2 separate regions of the Homo sapiens genome follow, and region 1 is linked to region 2. Evidence: fine-mapped expression QTL. Tissue or cell type: whole blood. Region 2 holds a variant in brackets; the other region holds the start of a gene. All regions are shown on one strand. Distances are from middle to middle.

The links. PIP is the estimated chance that this variant, and not a neighbour inherited with it, causes the effect.
Region 1: POC1B starts here. The variant in region 2 is fine-mapped to the expression of POC1B in whole blood (INTERVAL, PIP above 0.99).

The regions. Positions count from the first base shown.
Region 1 is chr12:89,524,772-89,527,529 of GRCh38, forward strand. It overlaps POC1B (POC1 centriolar protein B), which reads right to left and starts at 1,276. Exons shown (of 12, transcript NM_172240.3): 1 at 1,110-1,276; 2 at 349-433. The coding sequence starts at 1,124. POC1B-DUSP6 (POC1B-DUSP6 readthrough) reads right to left here and starts at 1,276. Exons shown (of 11, transcript NR_189589.1): 1 at 1,110-1,276; 2 at 349-433. POC1B-GALNT4 (POC1B-GALNT4 readthrough) reads right to left here and starts at 1,491. Exons shown (of 3, transcript NM_001199782.1): 1 at 1,110-1,491; 2 at 349-433. The coding sequence starts at 1,384. POC1B-AS1 (POC1B antisense RNA 1) reads left to right here and starts at 799. Exons shown (of 2, transcript NR_146294.1): 1 at 799-1,025. It also overlaps GALNT4. RefSeq lists silencers at 42-421, 972-1,231.
Region 2 is chr12:89,474,785-89,477,542 of GRCh38, forward strand. All of the region lies in intron 4 of POC1B-DUSP6 (POC1B-DUSP6 readthrough), which reads right to left. All of the region lies in intron 4 of POC1B (POC1 centriolar protein B), which reads right to left. Among named protein-coding and RNA genes, the nearest start is that of GALNT4, 49 kb to the right of the region's middle. The variant C/CTT (reference allele first, on the strand shown) is at 1,126.

The DNA of each region.
Region 1 (2,758 bases), 50 kb after region 2:
TCGGCTCACAACTTTTCACAAACTCTCCAGCCAACACCCCACCCTCCCCGGGCCGAGGAGAAACCCCTCCCCTTCCCACTCACTCCTCCTGGTGGTTAGTTTGCGAAAGTCGTCCGCCAGGCCCAGACCGCTGGATAGGAGGCTCTTGGCCGGGCCGGGGGCTGGGGGCCGGGATGGCAGAGGGGGCCCTAGCTGCGCCCCGCCGCGCTGGGCCCTCGTCTCCGGGTGCTCTCAACCCTCATACAGGCCCTTAGCCGTTCTCCTAGGGACCCTGCCCGGACAGGAGGAAAGGTTTCCGGCCCATGGAGTTTAGTCTCATTACAAAAGCAAAACAAGAATAAGACTTACCAAGTTGCTTGCCGTTGGGGCTGAGGTCCAAGGAGGTGATCGCAGCTTTGTGGCCTTTGAAATAACGCTCCAGAACGGGGTCCTCCTGGAAAGGAAAGTTGTCAAGTTTTGAAAGCCGCCGCAGACCTCGAATTCTGGCGGCTGGGATCCACGCTGCCACTTCCCCGGAGTCCGGCTTGGGAATGGCCACCCAGGCGGCGGCTTGGCTGGGCGGCGGGGCCGGGCAGCAGCCCACCCACGGGCGCGGCGCCCAGTCCTGCTACAGGGAGACGCCGGCGCCAGCTCTCCCCGCAGAGCCCGCAAAACGCTCTGTTCGCGCTTCCCAGAGTCCAGCGCATCGCAGGAACCGCGGCCCCTTTGAAATGCACGTTCCCGGGCCCCGCCCGCTGGCCCAAGGCAGGCAGGTGCGAGGATGCGCCTCGGCTTTGGTACTTTTTTTTTTTTTAATACTTCCTAGGTGATTCTGACGCAGGCGCTCCACGGAAACCCTCCGAGAATTCTGGGGGCCGTGGGGCCGCCCAGCTCAGTCCGGAGCTCCGGAACTCGGGGAAGAGCGTCCGGGAGCCGGGTCTGGGTTCCGCACTCCGTCCGCCCCGATGGCAGAGAGTGAGATACGGACGCCCCGGGACGAGGGGCTCAGGACCCGGCTACGGACACCTGCCTCCATCTCCCTCCAGGTGCGGCTTCGGCCCGGACCTGGCCCCGCAGCCCGCGGGACAGGCTCCAGGGAGGGACCCCCCCCACCTCCAACCCGTCCTTACCGTGGCTGAGGCCATCGGGGGAGTGGTCGGCCCAAGGCTCCTGTGGGTGGGGGAACCCGGAGAGGGGAGGGGAGAGGATGGGGAAGGAGAGGGGACCGTGCGGCTCCCGGAACCGTCTGCCCAGAGCGGCAGCGCCTCCCGGTCACTACAACAACGGCGGCCCAGTCAAACCCCGCGCTCCAGGCATGGCCAGCCGAGCCCCGAGACACCGCCAGCCCTGTAAAGAGAGGACGGGAGGTATGCGCCGGGTCAGCTGTGGCCACACACCAAGCCATGTTAACTAACACTCGCGTTCTCCCTGGTTTGATGTCAGGAAGTGGGGTAGTAACCAGGACTGGAATAAGAGCGATGAATGGAAGGGCGTTGTGAGCCTGTGATCGATGCGATCAGAGTTCTATTACGTTTTAAAGAGACAGCACCCGTGACGTTTAAGGTGATCCCCTACCGCTTATTTTGTTGACGTAAAGCTTTGACATGAAGAGGGGCAGCTTGCTAGTTATTAATATACTAAAAGGAACTAAATCCCCTGAGGGCAGATTTGAATTTATTTAACCACTGTTTTCCACACAGTGCCCTGCAGGATATTGATATAGTTGCTGGATGTGCGTGATGAATGAATGAGTGAATGAATGAATAAATGTTGTGCATGCACTTAATAATTTTCTGCGATATGTTTCCATTCTCATCTGCTTATTTGCGTATACCTTAGAGCACTAAACTTACACAGCTGGATACTTAAAGTCTTTAGGAAGACTTGGAAACATGGTTTTTTTTGTTTGTTTTTTGTGAGACCACGTTTCTACAGCAGGCTTTGTTACACATAGTATCATTTGTGCTTCAGCCAAACAATGAAGTTGGTAGAATTACAAAATGTTTTCAATGTTTCCAAGTTATAAACTTGATTCCTAGATATTGGTCTTAGAGGTCACACAGAGACAGTTCTTCTAATTCCAAGTCCATATCCTTTTTTTTTTTTTAACCCTGCCTCAAAGCGTGATGTTCTGAGCTGAAAATTACATATAGTGTAAAGATCCTTAGCAACATCAAAGGGCATGATAGAACACAGCTGGTAAGACATGTGTTTTATGCAAATGAAAGGTATGCTACACACCTTAATTACAGATTCCCTAGTTGTCTAGTGATTGAGTTTAATTTTATTGAATATGGTACTTAACAACTAAACAGGTAGGCTTTAGATTACAGTATTAGTTAATTTAAGTATACACTTGTTAAATATCTGTTGTATGTTTGGCCTTGAGGGACACAATGATGACTAAGATATTTCCCCTACCTTCAAGAACTCAGCAATCTAGGGTTGGTGAGTCTCATGCTTTAGCATTTGTAATGTTGATTTGGGGGCTCCATTTCCAGAGATGCTGAATCAACATATACAAGGTGGGATCCAGGGCCCTTCTGATGTAACAAGCTCCATAGATGATTACTATGGGAGTCTCAGCTGTCTATGTTGAGAAACACTGCATTAGTCTAGGAGATGATATGTTAAGAGTGTTGATATCAGCAACTTGTCAGCAAACTGTTGCAGGACTCTTAGTTTTGCTACATATTACCAGTTTAGGCTTGATTTATTTTAAAAGCCTGCCATGTTTAAAACTAATGCTGGATACTGGTGGGAATGTAAAATGATGTAG
Region 2 (2,758 bases):
TGTGTAAACAACAGAAGGTTCTAAAGTGGAGAGGAACCACGAGGCAGTGCTGTTAGGAGGCTATACACCATCCTTGAATAAACATCTGTGTGTGTTGCCATAAGCTGTAGGTAAAACAGACATGGTCCCTGTCCTTGTGGAGTTTGTGGGAAAAATTTTCACCCACTGATTCATTCAAAGATTCCCTGAGCACTTGTCAGTACCTGGCACTGGGCACTGCTGTGGGTAGTAGGAATATAGCTGTGAATGAGACTGGCAAGATCCCTGCCCTTATGAGGCTTTTGTTCTAGGGAGAAGGGAGGGCACACAAAAAACATAATTTTAGAAAGTGATAGGAAAAAGGGTTGTTAACAAAACAGGTGCCAATTTGTTACCAGAAGCTCCATAGAGGAAACAGGATTTTAAAGAAACTTGCAAATGAGGAAAAGTGTTATCTTGGTCAGCTAAAAGTGCCTCCTGAGCAGGAGGGCCCATAGCTGGGAGAAATTTCCCAGAGCAAAATAAATGAAGGGATGTGAACCTCGAATGAGTTAAAGTACAGGCAGTGGCTGGGAAGAACCTGGTGCCAGAAGGAGGCGAGGTTTCTACCATCAACTTAACAGAAACTAAAGGGGACTGAGGTTAAGGCCTTCCCCCTGCTCTGGTCACTGCATTATAATCCTGCATATGCTCTCTGTATGTGTTTTTTTGCATTTGAGGTGGCTGAAAGTGAGAATGATGATTTCTATTTCCTCCTCCTCCCTTTTATTTTTAATTAGATACATCAAAAATAGGTTAGCACCAATAAAACAGGCTTCTCTTTGCCTTGACTTTGATTAGGAAAGGTTAGTCCTTTATCGTCAGGGCTCAAATAACATCTAACTAGACTTTTAAGAATTTAAAGAGGATATAAAATTTCTACTAAGACATTAATAGATTTCTGACTCTCTTAATTTAGTACCACCCAACTGCCTTTAAAAACGTCTACAAAGTGTGTCACCAAGATGAATATTACATTAGTCAATAGTGACTACTGGATCAGCAAACATGGACATTCGAGAGTTTAAGAGGCATATGAGAAGTTAGCTGAACTACTACTGAATTCCTTAAACTTTACTGGTATTCACTCAAAAGAATGAGGGAATT[C/CTT]TTTTTTTTTTTTTTTTTTTTTTTTGAGACAGGGTCACCCAGGCTGGAAAGCAGTGGTGCAATCTCGGCTTATTTCAGCCTCGACCTCCAGGGCTCAGGTGATCATCCCACCTTAGCCTCCCAAATAACTGGGATTACAGGCTTGTGCCACCTTGCACGGCGAAGTTTTGTAATTTTTGTAGAGACAGGGTTTCGCCATGTTGCCCAGGCTGGTCTTGAACCCCTGGGCTCAAGCAATCCTCCTGCCTTCACCTCCCAAAGTGCTAGAATTACAGGCATGATCCACTGTGCCCAGCCCAGAATGAGGAAATTCTTGAACTTATTTCTAGTAAAACTGATTCACATGTCCTTGAAAATAGCCCAAATTATATAACAGGAGTCTTTTTAACTTGGAATCTACAGAGTTCCTGTAATTGTATGTAAAAATTTTATGTCTATATTCATAGTCATAGTTACTTGTTCATTACAGAACCAAAAACGTCCATGAACCATGAAAAGTCTTAAAGTGCTTTCATAAGGCCACGTGTGGTGGCTCATGCCTGTAATCCCAGCACTCTGGGAGGCTGAGGCAGGCAGATCATTGAGGCCATCAGTTTGAGACAAGCCTAGGCAATATGGTGAATCCCCATCTCTGCTAAAAATGCAAAAATTAGCTGGGCCTGGTGGTGCATGCCTGTAATCCCAGCTACTTGGGAGGCTAAGGCAAGAGAATCAGGGAGGCGGAGGCTGCAGTGAGCCAAGATCGCACCACTGCACTCCAGCCTGGGTGACAAAGTGAGACTGTCTCAATAGATAGATAGATAGATAGATAGATAGATAGATAGATAGATAGATAGATAGATAGATAGATAGACAGACAGACAGACAGACACTTTTATAAAAAATTCAAATTTTCCTTTGGCTATTTCTTATCTTCAGAATACATTTTCTATAAAAACACATTCCCAGCACTCAGGGCTCTGGGACCAAACAGGGCAGGCACTATTTCATGTCCCGTAAGACACAAATCATTAGTAAGAGGAACTCTGAAGCCAACAGCTCTTCAGTAGTAGGAGGAAGCAGTAAAAAGTAGTGGAAATAAGACTGCTCAGTAAATACCAAGTCCTGAATTCTAGGGCCAGTTCTGCAACTGTCCAGCTATGTAATCTTGTAAACTCACAACCGTAATGGCCACCATTTCCTATTTGTATAATGAAGGAGTCTGGATTGAATCAGCCCTAAAATTTTCACAGACTCTAAAAATTTGGCAGTCTCAGAGTTTGCGCTGATAGAATTTGATGTTTACAGATTGAAGGTGAAGTTCAAGTCAATAAGCAAAACATTTATTTTTTTTAAGTGTTGGTCAGCATTAGAAGAGAAACCATCTGTTGACTACAGTAGCAGGATTCATTTCTGCAACTGCTGAGAGACAAAAAGCAGATGAAAAATATGTAAAAAGATGAAGCATGCCATGAAAATTACTTGTTCGGGAATTTACCATCTATGTGCCCAGAATTCCTTCCTGGAATCTCCACCCATGAGTACAACTGCTTGCTGGGCATCCCCTTTTGGATATCCTGCAGGAACCTCCAGCTCTGAACTTGCCCAAATGAATTCACCCTCTTCCTCTTGAAGAGGAAGGTTCTCTTCTTCT